Linked DNA regions of Homo sapiens: regions 1 and 2 are each linked to region 3. Evidence: fine-mapped expression QTL. A gene starts in region 3. Each other region holds a variant in brackets. All regions are shown on one strand. Distances are from middle to middle.

Region 1 (5,231 bases), 57 kb before region 3:
ATCCCACAGAAAAAGAAACTACCATCAGAGAATACTACAAACACCTCTATGCAAATAAACTAGAAAATCTAGAAGAAATGGATAAATTCCTTGACACATACACCCTCCCAAGACTAAACCAGGAAGAAGTTGAATCCCTGAATAGACCAATAACATGCTCTGAAATTGAGGCAATAATTAATAGCCTACTGACCAAAAAAAGTCCAGGACCAGATGGATTCACAGCCGAATTCGACCATAGGTACAAGGAGGAGCTGGTACCATTCCTTCTGAAACTATTCCAATCAATACAAAAAGAGGGAATCCTCCCTAACTCATTTTATGAGGCCAGCATCATCCTGATACCAAAGCTGGGCAGAGACACAACCAAAAAAGAGAATTTTAGACCAATATCCTTGATGAACATTGATGCAAAAATCCTCAATAAAATACTGGCAAAACGAATCCAGCAGCACATCAAAAAGCTTATCCACCATGATTAAGTGGGCTTCATCTCTGGGATGCAAGGCTGGTTCAATATACGCAAATCAATAAATGTAATCCAGCATATAAACAGAACCAAAGACAAAAACCACATGATTATCTCAACAGATGCAGAAAAAGCCTTTGACAAAATTCAACAACCCTTCATGCTAAAAACTTTCAATAAATTAGGTATTCATGGGACGTATTTCAAAATAATAAGAGCTATCTATGACAAACCCACAGCCAATGTCATACTGAATGAGCAAAAACTGGAAGCATGCCCTTTGAAAACTGGCACAAGACAGGGATGCTCTCTCTCACCACTCCTATTCAACATAGTGTTGGAAGTTCTGGCCAGGGCAATCAGGCAGGAGAAGGAAATAAAGGTTATTCACTTAGGAAAAGGGGAAGTTAAATCGTCCCTGTTTGCAGATGACATGATTGTATATTTAGAAAACCCCATTGTCTCAGCCCAAAATCTCCTTAAGCTGATAAGCAACTTCAGCAAAGTCTCAGCATACAAAATCAATGTGCAAAAAATCACAAGCACTCATCTACACCAATAACAGACAAAGAGAGAGCCAAATCTTGAGTGAACTCCCATTCACAATTGCTTCAAACAGAATAAAATACCTAGAAATCCAACTTACAAGGGATGTGAAGGACCTCTTCAAGGAGAACTACAAACAACTGCTCAGTGAAATAAAAGAGGACATAAACAAATGGAAGAATATTCCATGCTCATGGACAGGAAGACTCAATATCGTGAAAATGGCCATACTGGCCAAGGTAATTTATAGATTCAATGCCATCCCCATCAAGCTACCAATGACTTTCTTCACAGAATTGGAAAAAACTACTTCAAAGTTCATATGGAACCAAAAAAGAGCCCGCATTGCCAAGTCAATCCTAAGCCAAAAGAACAAAGCTGGAGGCATCACGCTACCTGACTTCAAACTATACTACAAGGCTACAGTAACCAAAACAGCATAGTACTGGTACCAAAACAGAGATATAGATCAATGGAACAGAACAGAGCCCTCAGAAATAATGCCACTTATCTACAACTATCTGATCTTTGACAAACCTGACAAAAACAAGAAATGGGGAAACTATTCCCTATTTCATAAATGGTGCTGGGAAAACTGGCTAGCCATATGTAGAAAGCTGAAACTGGATCCCTTCCTCACACTGTATACAAAAATTAATTCAAGATGGATCAAAGACTTAAATGTTAGACCTAAAACCATAAAAACCCTAGAAGAAAACCTAGGCAATACCATTCAGGACATAGGCATGGGCAAGGACTTCATGTCTAAAACACCAAAAGCAATGGCAACAGAAGCCAAAATTGTCAAATGGGATCTAATTAAACTAAAGAGCTTCTGCACAGCAAAAGAAACTACCATCAGAGTGAACAGACAACCTACAGAATGGGAGAAAATTTTTGCAATCTACTCATGTGTCAAAGGGCTAATACCCAGAATCTACAAAGAACTCAAACAAATTTATAAGAAAAAAACAAACAAACCCATCAAAAGTGGGCAAAGTAGATGAACAGACACTTCTCAAAAGAAGTCATTTATACAGCCAACAGACACATGAAAAAATGCTCATCATCACTGGCCATCAGAGAAATGCAAATCAAAATCACAATGAGATGCCATCTCACACCAGTTAGAATGGCGATCATTAAAAAGTCAGGAAACAACAGGTGCTGGAGAGGATGTGGAGAAATAGGAACACTTTTACACTGTTGGTGGGACTGCAAACTAGTTCAACCATTGTGGAAGACGGTGTGGCGATTCCTCAAGGATCTAGAACTAGAAATACCATTTGACCCAGCAATCCCATTACTGGGTATATACCCAAAGGATTATAAATCATGCTACTATAAAGACACATGCACACATATGTTTATTGCAGCACTATTCACAATAGCAAAGACTTGGAACCAA[C/G]TTAAATGTCCATCAATGATATACTGTATTAAGAAAATGTGGCACATATACACCATGGAATACTATGCAGCCATAAAAAATGATGAGTTCATGTCCTTTGTAGGGACATGGATGAAGCTGGAAACCATCATTCTCAACAAATGATCACAAGGACAAAAAACCAAACACTGCATGTTCTCACTCATAGGTGGTAATTGAACAATGAGACCACTTGGACACAAGAAGAGGAACATCACACACAGGAGCCTGTCATGGGGTGGGGGGAGTGGGGAGGGATAGCATTAGGAGATATACCTAATGTAAATGACGAGTTAATGGGTGCAGCACACCAACATGGCACATGTATACATATGTAACAAACCTGCATGGTGTGCACATGTACCCTAGAACTTAAAGTAAAATAATAAAAAAAAGAACAAAGTCTTGTTGAACCACCAAGGAGGAAGAAATTTTCCTTTTTGAGGATATCATGGAAAGCATCCCAGAAGAAGTCTATTTGAAATGTTTCTTTTTTTTTTTTTTTTTTGAGACGGAGTCTCGCTCTGTCGCCCAGGCCGGACTGCGGACTGCAGTGGCGCAATCTCGGCTCACTGCAAGCTCCGCTTCCCAGGTTCACGCCATTCTCCTGCCTCAGCCTCCCGAGTAGCTGGGACTACAGGCGCCCGCCACTGCGCCCGGCTAATTTTTTGTATTTTTAGTAGAGACGGGGTTTCACCTTGTTAGCCAGGATGGTCTCGATCTCCTGACCTCATGATCCACCCGCCTCGGCCTCCCAAAGTGCTGGGATTACAGGCGTGAGCCACTGCGCCCGGCCTGAAATGTTTCTTAAAGAATGAGTGAGAGTTCAAGAGGTGGAGAGGTGGAGAGGTCACTGTAAGCATGGAAAATTTAAAGATTTCAGGACTTAGTTCCTATGCTCTAGATTTATCACTAGGTGTTTGTGTGGGAAGTCATGGGAAATGAGATCTGAAAATTATACAGTCTGCTGTAAATGTGTGAACTCTTGAGTTTTCTGCTAATAAGTTTGGGTAGTATGCAGATTTTGTTGATCATTTAAAGAAATCAATGTAACATGCTAGCATCAGAATCTGCTTCCCCCTTCTATCGGGGGAACCCACCCCCAATATTTCAACGTAGGTTCTGTCTATTTTCCATAAGTGTCGGCCAGCTGAGAAATAAAGAGAGACAGTATAAAGAGAGGAATTTTACAACTGGGCAGCTGGGGGTGGCATCACATATCAGTAGGACCATGATGCCCACCTGAGGCTCAAAACCAGCAAGTTTTTATTAAAGGTTTTAAATGGGGAGGGGGTATAAGAACAGGGAGTAGGTACAAAGATCACATGCTTCAAAGGGCAAAAGGCAGAACTACTACTAAGGGTCTAACAAAGATCACATGCTTCTGAGGGAACAGGACAAAGGGCAAAAGCAGAACTACTGGTAAGGGTCCAACAAAGATCACAAGGCAAAGGGAAAAAGCAGAACTACTGATAAAGTCTATGTTCAGTGGTGCACATATTGTCTTGATAAACATCTTAAACAACAGAAAGCAGGGTTCAAGAGCACAGAACCAGTCTGACCACAAATTTACCAGGGCGGAGTTTTCCCCACTCTAGTAAGCCTGAGGGTACTGGAGACCAGGGTGTATCTCAGTCCTTATCTCAACCACATAAGACAGACATTCCCAGAACAGCTGTTTATAGATCTCCCCCCACGAATGCATTCCTTTCCCAGGGTATTAATACTAATATTAATATTCCTTGCTAGGAAAATAATTTAGTGATATCTTCCCTACTTGCATGTCCCTTTATGGGCTCTCTGCAAGAAGAAAAATGTGGCTCTTTTTGCCTGACCCCACAGGTAGTCAGACCTTATGGTTGTCTTCCCTTGTTCCCTAAAAATTGCTGTTATTCTGTTGTTTTTCAAGGTGCACTGATTTCATATTGTTCAAACACACGTTTTACAATCAATTTGTACAGTTAACACAATTATCACAGAGGTCCTGAGGTGACGTATCTCCTCAGCTTAGGAAGATAACAGGATAAAAGATTAAAGTAAAGACAGGTGTAAGAAATTATAAAAGTATTATTTGGGAACTGATAAATGTCCTTATTAAAATGAAATCTTCACAATTTATGTTCCTCTGCTGCAGCTCCAGCTGGTCCCTCCATTTGGGTTCCCTGACTTCCCGCAACACCCTTCCCTTTTAAAGAACAGATGTTTCTATTTTGCAATTTTTTCTGACTTGTGAACTACCTTTAATAGTATTTTTAGTATTTAGTATTTACTTTAATAGTAATAATATGAATTCTATAAAATTATTGCTATTTAACCATTCCAACCTACAAAAGCATCAATTTCATATGGTTCAAACTGTATATTATGAGAATAATACCTAAACTTTAAATAATTTTTTTATAATACCTAAACTTTTAAAATCATTTTAATGTTTTTTATGTAGTTGATAATAAAATATGCTACTTAGTACTTTTAAAAAATTATATAATACATTATGATTGTATTATAAAGTTTATTTAATATAATTTATACTATTAAAATAGTTGGTAACCTCTTCTTATTTACAAATAGAACACTTGCTTTTAAAAATACTATTAAATTATATAAAGAAAAGCATTTCTTTTCAAATTTTCAATGATAATATATCATGTTGAACTAGGAAAAAATGAATGTTAACGTGTTTATATACCAAAATATGGCCAAAAAATAGTTTTCATAACCTCATGTCTGAAATTGCTGGAACTTATTTAGAATCTCATTGGAATTATTTTTATTAAAATGTTAATGATT
Region 2 (5,231 bases), 32 kb before region 3:
TAAATACAGTTTGAATATATGTATGCATATATTGTTCAGCACCACGATGCTCTGATTTAATTCTAGAAACAATTTGATTACCTCTTGTTTGTGACAAGACTAAGCATTAAGATGAGAAAGAATACATTTAAATAGTAACATTGTACATAGGGTGTTTTCCTATTAAAAATTCAGTTTCCCCTGAGACTTAATGTAACCACTTAATGTAATCACTATCTCATTGTTTCATCTTTATAAACTTGTAAACTTCATCTATTTCAAATATTTTATGCAGTACATTATATTATTCTGTACAAAGGCTTTCAAACAAAATTTTTAAAATAATAAAGTATTAATCTTTCTCCCTGTATTGTTTTTGAAATATTGATTGTATTTGTTAGGAATCTTAATGACCAAAGACAGAAATCTATCTGAAGTTTGTCTAGAGGGGATATACTGAAGAATTACTAGCTTGCAGAATTCAAATGAACACTGTCCAAAAAGCCTTGAAAGAGGAGCCTGAAAACTCTGATGCCACAAGGACTGGGTCCAGTTCCTGGAGTGCTATATTCCTGGAACACTCTTCTGAGATCTTTTTTGTCTCATCTCTTCTCTGTAGGTGTTGGCTTTATTCTTTCCTGCAGTAGAACAGCTTCTGTCTCAGGCTGGGTCCCAGTTTCCAGCACCATCAGACTCACACAGGGCAAAGCTTCTCTTTCCCCCAGCTCCCATGCCTGTGGTCTGGGAGGTGGAGTGAACTCTAATGCATGCAGAACTGAGGTAAAAGCAAGGAACAGTCCCCTCAAAGAAGATGTGCTTTCCAGAAGAAAGTACACAGACTGGACAGTGACCCAGTTCATTTCTAATAAGACATTAACTAAGCTAAGAGTTTAGATCAGACATGAGTTTTAGTCTTCTTTTTCTAGCTTGGCCAGGTTATTGGGAAAACTTAAATTTTTGTTATGGGAGGAAGTACATAATATTATTTAAGAAATCTAAAATGTATGTCAACCTTGACCTAGAGTGATTATCACTAGCAAGCAGTAAGTTCTTGATGGAATTGAACTATTCTTTGGTTTCATTTGCAAGTTTTTTCTTATAAGGTCTTATAAGGATTATATCATCTAGTTTGTCTCAGAATTACATATAATTGTTTTTGTCTCCATGACTGTTGTGTGCTCATGTATGTGTGTATACACAGTATCTGATGGTGGCTAGGCTGATATAATACAGAGGCAAATGGCATGGTGGCTAAAAGGCACTAGCTTTGAAATCAACAAGCTCGAGGGCAAATTCTGGCTCTGCCATTTATTAACTATCTGGTACTATCACCAGTTGAAGCCTAGTTTCCTATCCATCTGGGGATAAAAGTACTTATTTTATAAGCTTTGCTATTTCCCAGGAGAAACATGTGTTAATAGATATTCTGTCACCAAAGTGCCTTAGAATATTGGTGTAAATGTTATTTGTCAACGTTTATCATTATTTTAATAGACTGTATTAGTCAGGATTCTCCAAAGGGACAAAACTAACAGGATCGATGTATATATGAAGGGGAGTTTATTAAAGAGTATTGACTTACAAAATTACAAGGTGAAGTCCCACAATAGGTCTGCAAGCCAGGAAGCCAGTCCAAGTCCCAACACCTCAAAAGGAGGGAAGCCAATATTGTAGCCTTCAGTCTGTGGCCGAAGGCCCCAGAGCCCATGGCAAATCACTGATATAAGTCCAAGAGTCCAAAAGTTGAAGAACTTGGAGTCTGTTATTCCAGGGCAGGAAGCCTCCAGCATGGGAGAAAGATGGAGGCCAGAAGACTCAGCAGGTCTGTTCTCTCCATGCCTCCTTTCACACTGGCAGCTGATTAGACAGGGCCCACCCAGGCTGAGGGTGGGTCTGCCTCTCCCAGTCCACTGACTCAAATGTTAATCTCCTTTGGAAACACCCTCACAAACACATCCAGGAACAATACTTTGCATCCTTCAATCCAATCAAGTTGGCACTCAATATTAACCATCACAACTTTGTCAACTTGAACCCATCCACATCTCCTGAAATCACACATAATCTTCAACTGAAGCCAATAATAAGGTCATAATTACATCTAACACAATACAGCTATCCTTTGTACAACTGGAAGTGCACCAATCCCCAATCCAAATGCTATTACCTAAAGTTAACAACACTTAAATGCTGATATGAAGTCAACAAATCTTACATCACATGATAAAGGAAAAATAAAGGAAATAAAATGAATATATTTTCTTAGTACAAGTATATATATGTGCAAACATGTTCTCAACAAAATAAAGAGGAAATACTCATGACAATTACAGTCCTCATTTCTGCAACTGGTCACATGGCTGAAGCTGCTATTGATGACTACCTTATTCCACTACCCCCATTCCTTATTCTCTTTGCCTTCAGCAAGCACCTCAGCAGGTTGTGGCTTTGTACCTGCTGGAGTGACCCAAACCTTCATTCCTGAAGTATCTGGGCCATTTGTAGTCCTGCCAGGATTGTGCC[G/A]TTGTAGTTTCCCATTGACATTAATCACAGGGCATGGCAATACTAAGAGACACCCTAAGGGTTCTCCTGTGTTCCATGCCTACTCTTCCTTACCTCCATTGTGGAGTAGTAGACTGATTTCGTCTTCATAGTCCAGGTCAATCACCCTGGCCAATACTGTAACTCCCTTCTTAGCCTGTTGCATTAGTCTGCTGTTATGCTGCTAATAAAGACATACCTGAGACTGGGTAAGTCATAAAGGAAAGAGGTTTAATGGACTCACAGTTCCACATGGTTGTGGAGGCTTCACAATCATGGTGGAAAGCAAAGGAGAAGCAAAGTCATGTCTTACATGGTGGCAGGCAAGAGTGCTTGTGCAGGGGAACTCCCATTTATAAAACCATCAGATCTTGTGAGACTTATTCACTACCATGAGAACAGTATGGGAGAAACCACCCTCATGATTCAATTATCTCCACCTGGCCCTGCCCTTGACATGTGGGGATTATTACAATTCAAGGTGAGATTTGGGTTAAGAGACAGCTAAACCATATCATAGCTAAACCATATCATAGACTATATGGTTATATTTAGTTCTTTACACCTATATTTCTTGGTGTGACTAAGCTAGAAGTTGCAAGAGTTTTATCAAAGGATATATCAGTCATTCTTCATGTAAATATCAAAATAATTTAGACTGCAAGTCCCCACCCTCCCCAGTCACACTTGCTTCTAGTGCTGATGACCCACTTTATAACTTTTAAATGGGCTAGAAAATCACTGTAAGGTGGGCTAATTTAGTATTCACTTTGAGATCTTTGTGAAACCACATCCAGAAACACGTTGATGACTTTCATTATGACTTCTAATTATTAGGTGAGGATTTTGTTGCTTTGACTTCAAGTAGTTTGTTATGGCTGGATCACAGCATAAGAGTGATCAAACTATGCAGCACAGCAGCAATCACGGTTGAAAAGGTAGAGAGGGGCTTCTTCGTGAAAACTCACTTAAAAGAGCTCACATGGTATCATAAGGCATTGGGAGCCCTTGAACGGTTGTGAACAGAGAAACTGATAACGTCTTTGAGAAATGTAAATGCAGGGGAAATACAGTAGATGGACTATAAGAACATCAATCTGAATCACCAGACTTTGGGTCTGGACTAAGGGACATAGAGAATAATGAGTAGGCTACTGAATAATGGAGATAAATGACACTAAAGAACATGCAACTAAGAAATGACAGTAGCCACAGGAGGTAGGTAATTCATTGATGGGTTACCAAGGTGCAGATGACCTGCTTAAATGTTTAGGATTTGTCTTAATTTTATTGATTGGGTGATTCCATAATGTTGATTCTGTTAACCAAAATAGAGGCTCTTAGAGGTAAAGGAAATTTTTGTTGGGGGTGGTGGGAGAAGTTAGGGAGGATGACGAATGGAGTTTCGGAAACACTGAGGTTAAAGTGCCTATGGAGAAAACCAAAAGCTGGATATATTAATTTAGAGCTGAGAAAACTGTAAATATAAAGCACATTAATACCGTGTTGACAAAATGTAAGCCATACACTTAAGAAGAGGTTCTTTTTAAACCAAAGTCAAATGTAGGTTGTTTTATTGTAAATGTCATCAAAATCCAGAACAGCAGAAACATATTAATCAGTTTGAAATTTTAGAAATCCTTTAGCACTTGAAAAAGAGTATTACAAATGCATCTATATCACATAGAAAGTCAGCGAATACAAACTAGACAAGCAGGACATAGTTCTTTTCTGGCATTCCAGGATAATAAGAATATTTATCAATTAAAAGGTCAATATCTGTCTTCCTGAAATAACTCCAAACCTGAGTCAACACACATTCTTTTCGGATTGGTTCTGACTGGCGTAAGAAGAGAAATACAGCATTTTGTTTTTTATTTTGTTTATCTAATCACAGGGAAGGATAAACAAAGGGCAAAAGTGAGAGAAAAAGTTAGATGTCCTTGAATTTTTTTTTTTAGTGGTTGCTACTGCATTTCATGTTTCATTTTTGTTAGATCATATACATTAGAAAAGAATGATACATTTTAGAGAAGAAATATGTACATACATAGTATCAGAAATAATTTTCTTGTATTGATTCATTTAATATGGTTGTGCTTATATTCAATCAGAAGGTCAACTCCTTTGCTCTAAGGTTCTTACACTGCTAACAAGAAATGGCTTTTTTCCTGTTGCAGGTCATGAGCAGCACACAGTGTCCTTTCTAGGCACATAGGATCATCGATCACTGTGTGGACGCAGGCTAATCAGAATTGCACCTGAAATCACTTGTGCAATTAGTGATGCAAGAGTGATCACAGGAATCAAGACTGGGAGCCAAGAGAAAGAACAAGAGGTGCACAAAGAAGCAGTTCGGATGGGAGACCAGGAAAGCTGAGGGGAAAACTGGGAAACAGATTCTGGAAAACTCACAGTTTGTTTGATACCCAGGGTTAAGAGATGGGACTTTGATAGGAGTGGTGCTTATGAATTAAGGGAGGAAGAAAGAGGTGAGATCCTAATGTTGGTAAAGGTACAGAGACAAAGGGAGCCAACCAAGTGGTAAGAAAATAGAAATGGAAAGTAAAAATGAGACTTAATTCTTTAGTCAGGGAAGCCAAGCCACCAGGAAAACTTGGTAAAGAGTAAGAGAAAGAGGGAGAAAATATGAGATAATATTTTGGTATTTTGATATACTAGAGAACAAAATATTATTCTATAGTATAAAA
Region 3 (5,231 bases):
GATTAAAACAAATTTTAAAACCTTCACCATTCTCTAAACCCATGACCATGAAAGACATTACTAATTAATCAAGGACTTTCTTGAACCAGATCTTCAGCTGCAAACCCCTGAATCATCAATTCACCAATGAATTAACTTGATTTCAACAAGAAGTTTCACGGTTACCAAGGAGGCAAGGCCCTTTCCACCTTTCCCACTGTCCAGCTCTCTATCCCAAGTCCGAACAGCAATCTCCAGCTAACTAATCTAACTAATTCCTGATGATCTTAGATGAAAGACTTTCATCCCAAATCCATCCATCTCCCCCACTTCCCTCCTCCCGTCCATGGAAAAAATGTCTTCCATGAATCCGGTCCCTAGTGCCAAAAGATTGGGGACCACTAAGGTAGAAAATCGGTTTTAAAGCATTCTTGGATAAAGTCCAACTAAGCACCGAGAGGTGTTCAGTTTCCAGCAACTGTGCGTTGAAGCCTCAATGTTCTCTTTTTTGGGTATCCATCTCATGAAGCAAATTCTTACAGGCAGCAATTGCTTTGAAAATTTTTTCAGTATTTCTTAACCCGAGGTTTTTAAAATGTACTAAGAGTCTTCATAATTCGATCCTCCTCCACTTCCAACTTTCCATCTTTCAACCTGTTTCTTTGTATTTCTCCTGAGAAAAGTTACATTTTCTAGACATTCATCAGGGTATGGCCTCTTTACAGGACCAGTATGAGTCACTACATAAATTATACACATATATATTTATAAATTATCTAAAATCTAAATAAATGTTAAAAATATATTTATAAGTCTAGCCCTTTGAGCTTTGTCCTGAAATATTATTTTTAGGAGCCTGACAGTGTGTTTATTTATTTAGCCAATGAATACGTTACCAATAAAGGTGAAACTGACTTTTCCCCTAAGGGGTTTCGTTTACCAGGAAAACGAACGTAAGTTGAGGATAGGGGTAGAATACAGGCCAGAATTTTGTTCTTGAAAGAGTAAGAGGACTTCTGGTTTTGAAAGCTAGAACTGAACTCAAGAATAATAAAGTGGAGATAACAGTACACATCTCGGTTTGGACAAAACGTAAGAGTGGACAGAATCAGGGAAGGCTGGCCTTCCTAAACATTGGAGCTTTCCAGGAGAGTCGGGGGAAAAGAGCACAGCTATGAAATCCTGTGAGAAATTCCAACAAACACCAGGAAAAAAGATACACTTCCTTGAGCAATATTACTCAACTCAGACTTATGTTTGATTCAGAATGAAAGAATTTTCTTTTCCAATAAATTAAATCATGATAATGGCATCTTTCATGAATTTAAAAATGTGTTAAATAGTATCAGCTATCTAGAACATAGTGAGGCGAACACTAAATCGGCATCCCTTGCAGTTTCCTTGGTTTCAGGAAAATCATTATTTGTGCTCAGCTAACTGGTCCCTTCCAGAGTTTTCATGCTAGACTCAAATCTAAGTATTTATTATAAATATTATAAAATATAAATTATATTATATTTCGTATAATAATATGAAAAGGAAATTAAATGCTTCTCTTTTCTTCAACTCAGTCTCCGCCAAGGCAGGAAGAACTTTTAAAGTGGTGCGTTAGTTTAAGGAGAATCATAAACCATCAGGATTCTTTAATCTGGCTAAAGACAGGCTCTTTGTTTCTAACTTCTGATCACTAGCGCCCTCCTCGGGAAAAAAAAACACGACAGGTTTCTTCCACCAACAGGCTGCTCCCTGTTTCTGGTTCTCATAAAAGAGAAATAGAAGAGCTTTGGAAGCCAGTGGCAACGATAGAGGGGATTGCTAAAAGGGGGTGCTTCTTCCCACCAAGGACACTTTGGACGTATCTATGGATTTATTTGGGTGCGTCCCAAAAATCCATAGCGACAAATCTCTTCTGGAAAATCAAGTCTTTTGGTTAGCAAAGGCATGGGGGAGTGACACCATGGCACAAGGAGAGGGGAGAGAGAAGCTGGCTTTTGCACCCGCAGCTCAGGGCCCCAGACGCATCGCAGAGCCACGGGTGCCCACGAGCAGGGTCAGCTCTCGGGGGCCCTCTTCCGCAGCCCAGACCCGGGACAGGAAGTGAGGGAGCAGGGACAGATCCCGGGGAGGCGCGCGCTCGGTACCCGGAAGGCGGCGGCTTCACGCTCGCGGCTCCGCGGCCAGGTCGGGGTGAAGGGGGCGCGGGAGTCCGCATCGCCGCCGCCCCGGCACAGCAGCCACAGCAGCCACGGCAGCCACGGCAGCGCCCGCACGTCCATTGCGGCGCCCGGCTCCTCTGCCGCCCGCGCGGCCTGTTTTCTCTTTCGGTTCCTCGGCTCCTCCCAGCCTGGGCTCGAGGGGCGGAAGGAGCTGGGTTGAGTGCACGATGCTGAGATTGACCCTTTTTTAGGTCCCCGGTGTTCTGTGACTGAAAATCCGGTCAGCTGGAGGCTACGGACCTCCTTGCTGAGGCTAGTTTTTTTGTTTTTGTTTTTGTTTTGGAAGAGTCAGGCACTTGACCATGTGCTTTCGAGGTTTCACTTCCATCCATTAGAAAAAAAGAAGCCTGAGAGTCATTCTTTTGTGTGTGTTGAGATCAGGTCTCACTGCAGCCTCGACCTTCAGGTTCAAGTGCCTCCTGCCTCAGCCTCCGGAGTACCTGGGACTACAGGCGCGTGCCACCACCCCAGGCTATTTTTGTATTTTTAGTAGAGATAGGATCTTGCCATATTGCCCAGGCCGGTCTCGAACTCCTGGACTCTAGTGATCCACCCGCCTTGGCCTCCCAAAATGCTCACAGGTGTGAGCCACCTGGCCTGCCCTGTGAGCCACCGGAAGCTGCCTTTTTCCTTCTTGCCACAATCCCTAAGTTCAAGACCTAGTTCTGAAGTGATGTGGGCCAATACATAGAGTCATCCATTCAGCAGATGTTTATAAATACGTAACAAAATTGTACAGATGTGAAAAGCATACACAGTTTTTGGATCTATTATGGCAGTTTCAAAACTCTTGAAGCCTGTTTCTCCGTTTGCAAAGGAAGATAGAGCCAAGTACATAATTTGCAGGGTTCCGTGTAAACTGAAAATGAAGTTCCCTTGTTCATAAATTGTGAAGAATTTCAAGACGGCAACAGCAGAGCATTAACCCAAGCCATGGGCCTTCTAAGCACCCACTTCTGCACAGGTCACACACTCATGAACCTGGCTCTACCGAGCCTTTCTATTATCATCTATTCTGAACAAGGCTTCCATGTCTGTGAAATTCATATCATTACCCTTGTAGATTTTTAGAACTAACATCAGATTTATGTCTTTAGTTTTTACCTAGGTGCAGTGAGTTACAATATTCTCCAATGCAAACTTCGTAATAAAAATAAAAATAATGTTCCGAGTATTAAGAGGAAAGACACAAGAGTTTTTTATGTACGTTCATGATAAGATATATTGCTCTTGGCAAGTGTGGTGATAAAGATTTTATTTAAATCATAAGTTCACAGAACGATGTTCATGTTTACCTCAGCAGTTCTTTTGTACTTAGCCCTTTTTTGTGACTCATACAAGCACATACTTTTCTTTTTAAACTGAACTTTGCTTTCAGATCATAGTCCCTGTTTATTGACAACCTACGGAGTCAGGAAATTTAAATATAGGCAGTCATCTTTACTTTAGGATAATTGGTATTGTAAAAAAGCCCCTTGAACTAAACTCATTTCAGGAGCTCACATCAAGTATTTATTGAGTACCTGCTAAGTGTCAGGCATTCTTCTAGGTAATGAGGATATATCAAGTAAGTGGATAAGTGACTAAAGGGATGAAAATCCCCATCCCTATGGGACTGATATTTCAATTGATTTACATCAACAAATATTTTATTGAGTACTTCCTAAGTGTCAGGCATTGTTCTAGGTCATCAGGACACATCATGGATGGAAGTGCATAAGTGACTGAAGAGATGAAAAGCCCCACCCTGTTGAAGCTGGTATTTCAGTGAGGGGGAGAGACGCAATAAAATTACTACAGGTTGAGGATCCCTTATCCACAATGCCTGGGTCTGGAAGTGTTTCAGATTTCAGATTTTTTCCCCCCAGATTTTGGAATATTTGCATATACATAATGAGATCTCTTGGGGATGAGACCCAAGTCTAAACACAAAATTCATTTGTGTTTCACTTATGCTACTGACTGAAGGTAATCTTACTGACTATTTTAGGTAATTTTATGCATAAAACAAGGCTTTGAATGCATTTTGACTATGACCCACCACATGAAGTCAGGTGTGAAATTTTCTAGGTGTGGCATGATGTCAGTACTCAATAAGTTTTAGATTTTGGAGTATTTTGGGTGTTTGGATTAGAGATGCTCAACTTGTACATGTGTTAAAGGACAATAAATCCAGATAAGGAGCATCATCAGTGTGAGGGGTGGTACTGCTATTTTAAATAAGCTGTTCAATACTGTCCTCACTGATGAGGAGAGTTTTGAGCAAAGATTTGAAGGAGAAGAAAGTGAGCCACATGGATATTCAGATATCCAGGGAAAGAGAAGCTAAGACAGAAAGAACTGTCAACACAAAGGCCTTGAGATGGAAGTTTGCTTGGCACGTTCCAGAAACATAAAAGACGTCAGCATGGATGGAGTAAAGGAAAAAAAAAAGGATGGGGGAGAGTAGAATATGAGATAAGTAAGAAGCGCACAGATTGTGAAGAATTTTGGGTCAGTTAAAAGGGAGATCAGAATCATCTATTAAGTAGTAAAACAAAGTTTTTGAAAAGTGGCTTGAAAAGTGAAGGTGGCAAGTATCTGCTAATTCTTAGAATAAACACTACAAATTACATGTATATGTAGAGATGTGTTTTTTTCATCAAATTTGCAAAATAGCACATGGAACTTCCCTCAACTCTGTATTAGATATCTATTGCCATGTAAAATATAACCCTCAAACTTAGCATCTTAAAAATACGAATTTTTCTTATCTTAAACAGTTTCTGTGGACCAGGAGGGAGCAGCTTATCTGGGTGGTTCCAGCTCAGAGTGTCTCATGAGGACGCAGACAAGCTGTTGCATATGGCTGCAATCTTCTGAAGGTTTCCCAAGTTTAAAGGATTCAATTTCAAGCTCATGTGGCTGTTAGCAAGAGTCCTCAGCTCCTCTTAGGCCTTTGGACAAAATCCTCAGAACCTTATCAGAAGGCTGGGCTTTTCCTGCCAGCTCTTTGTTCCTGCAGAATGAGTGAATAGAGAAATTGAGACAGTGGAC

What was found. PIP is the estimated chance that this variant, and not a neighbour inherited with it, causes the effect. A credible set is the group of variants that fine-mapping cannot tell apart.
Region 1: its variant is the best candidate, but not a certain one, in a credible set for the expression of CTSO in whole blood (TOPMed, PIP 0.87).
Region 2: its variant is the best candidate, but not a certain one, in a credible set for the expression of CTSO in prefrontal cortex (CommonMind, PIP 0.67).

What each region holds. Positions count from the first base shown.
Region 1 is chr4:155,894,570-155,899,800 of GRCh38, forward strand. No RefSeq gene overlaps it. Among named protein-coding and RNA genes, the nearest start is that of TDO2, 6.5 kb to the right of the region's middle. The variant C/G (reference allele first, on the strand shown) is at 2,424.
Region 2 is chr4:155,920,058-155,925,288 of GRCh38, forward strand. It overlaps TDO2 (tryptophan 2,3-dioxygenase), which reads left to right. Exons shown (of 12, transcript NM_005651.4): 12 at 1-349. It overlaps CTSO (cathepsin O), which reads right to left. Exons shown (of 8, transcript NM_001334.3): 8 at 4,061-5,231. Among named protein-coding and RNA genes, the nearest start is that of TDO2, 19 kb to the left of the region's middle. The variant G/A (reference allele first, on the strand shown) is at 2,503.
Region 3 is chr4:155,951,593-155,956,823 of GRCh38, forward strand. CTSO (cathepsin O) reads right to left here and starts at 2,274. Exons shown (of 8, transcript NM_001334.3): 1 at 2,121-2,274. The coding sequence starts at 2,255. RefSeq lists an enhancer at 3,385-3,679.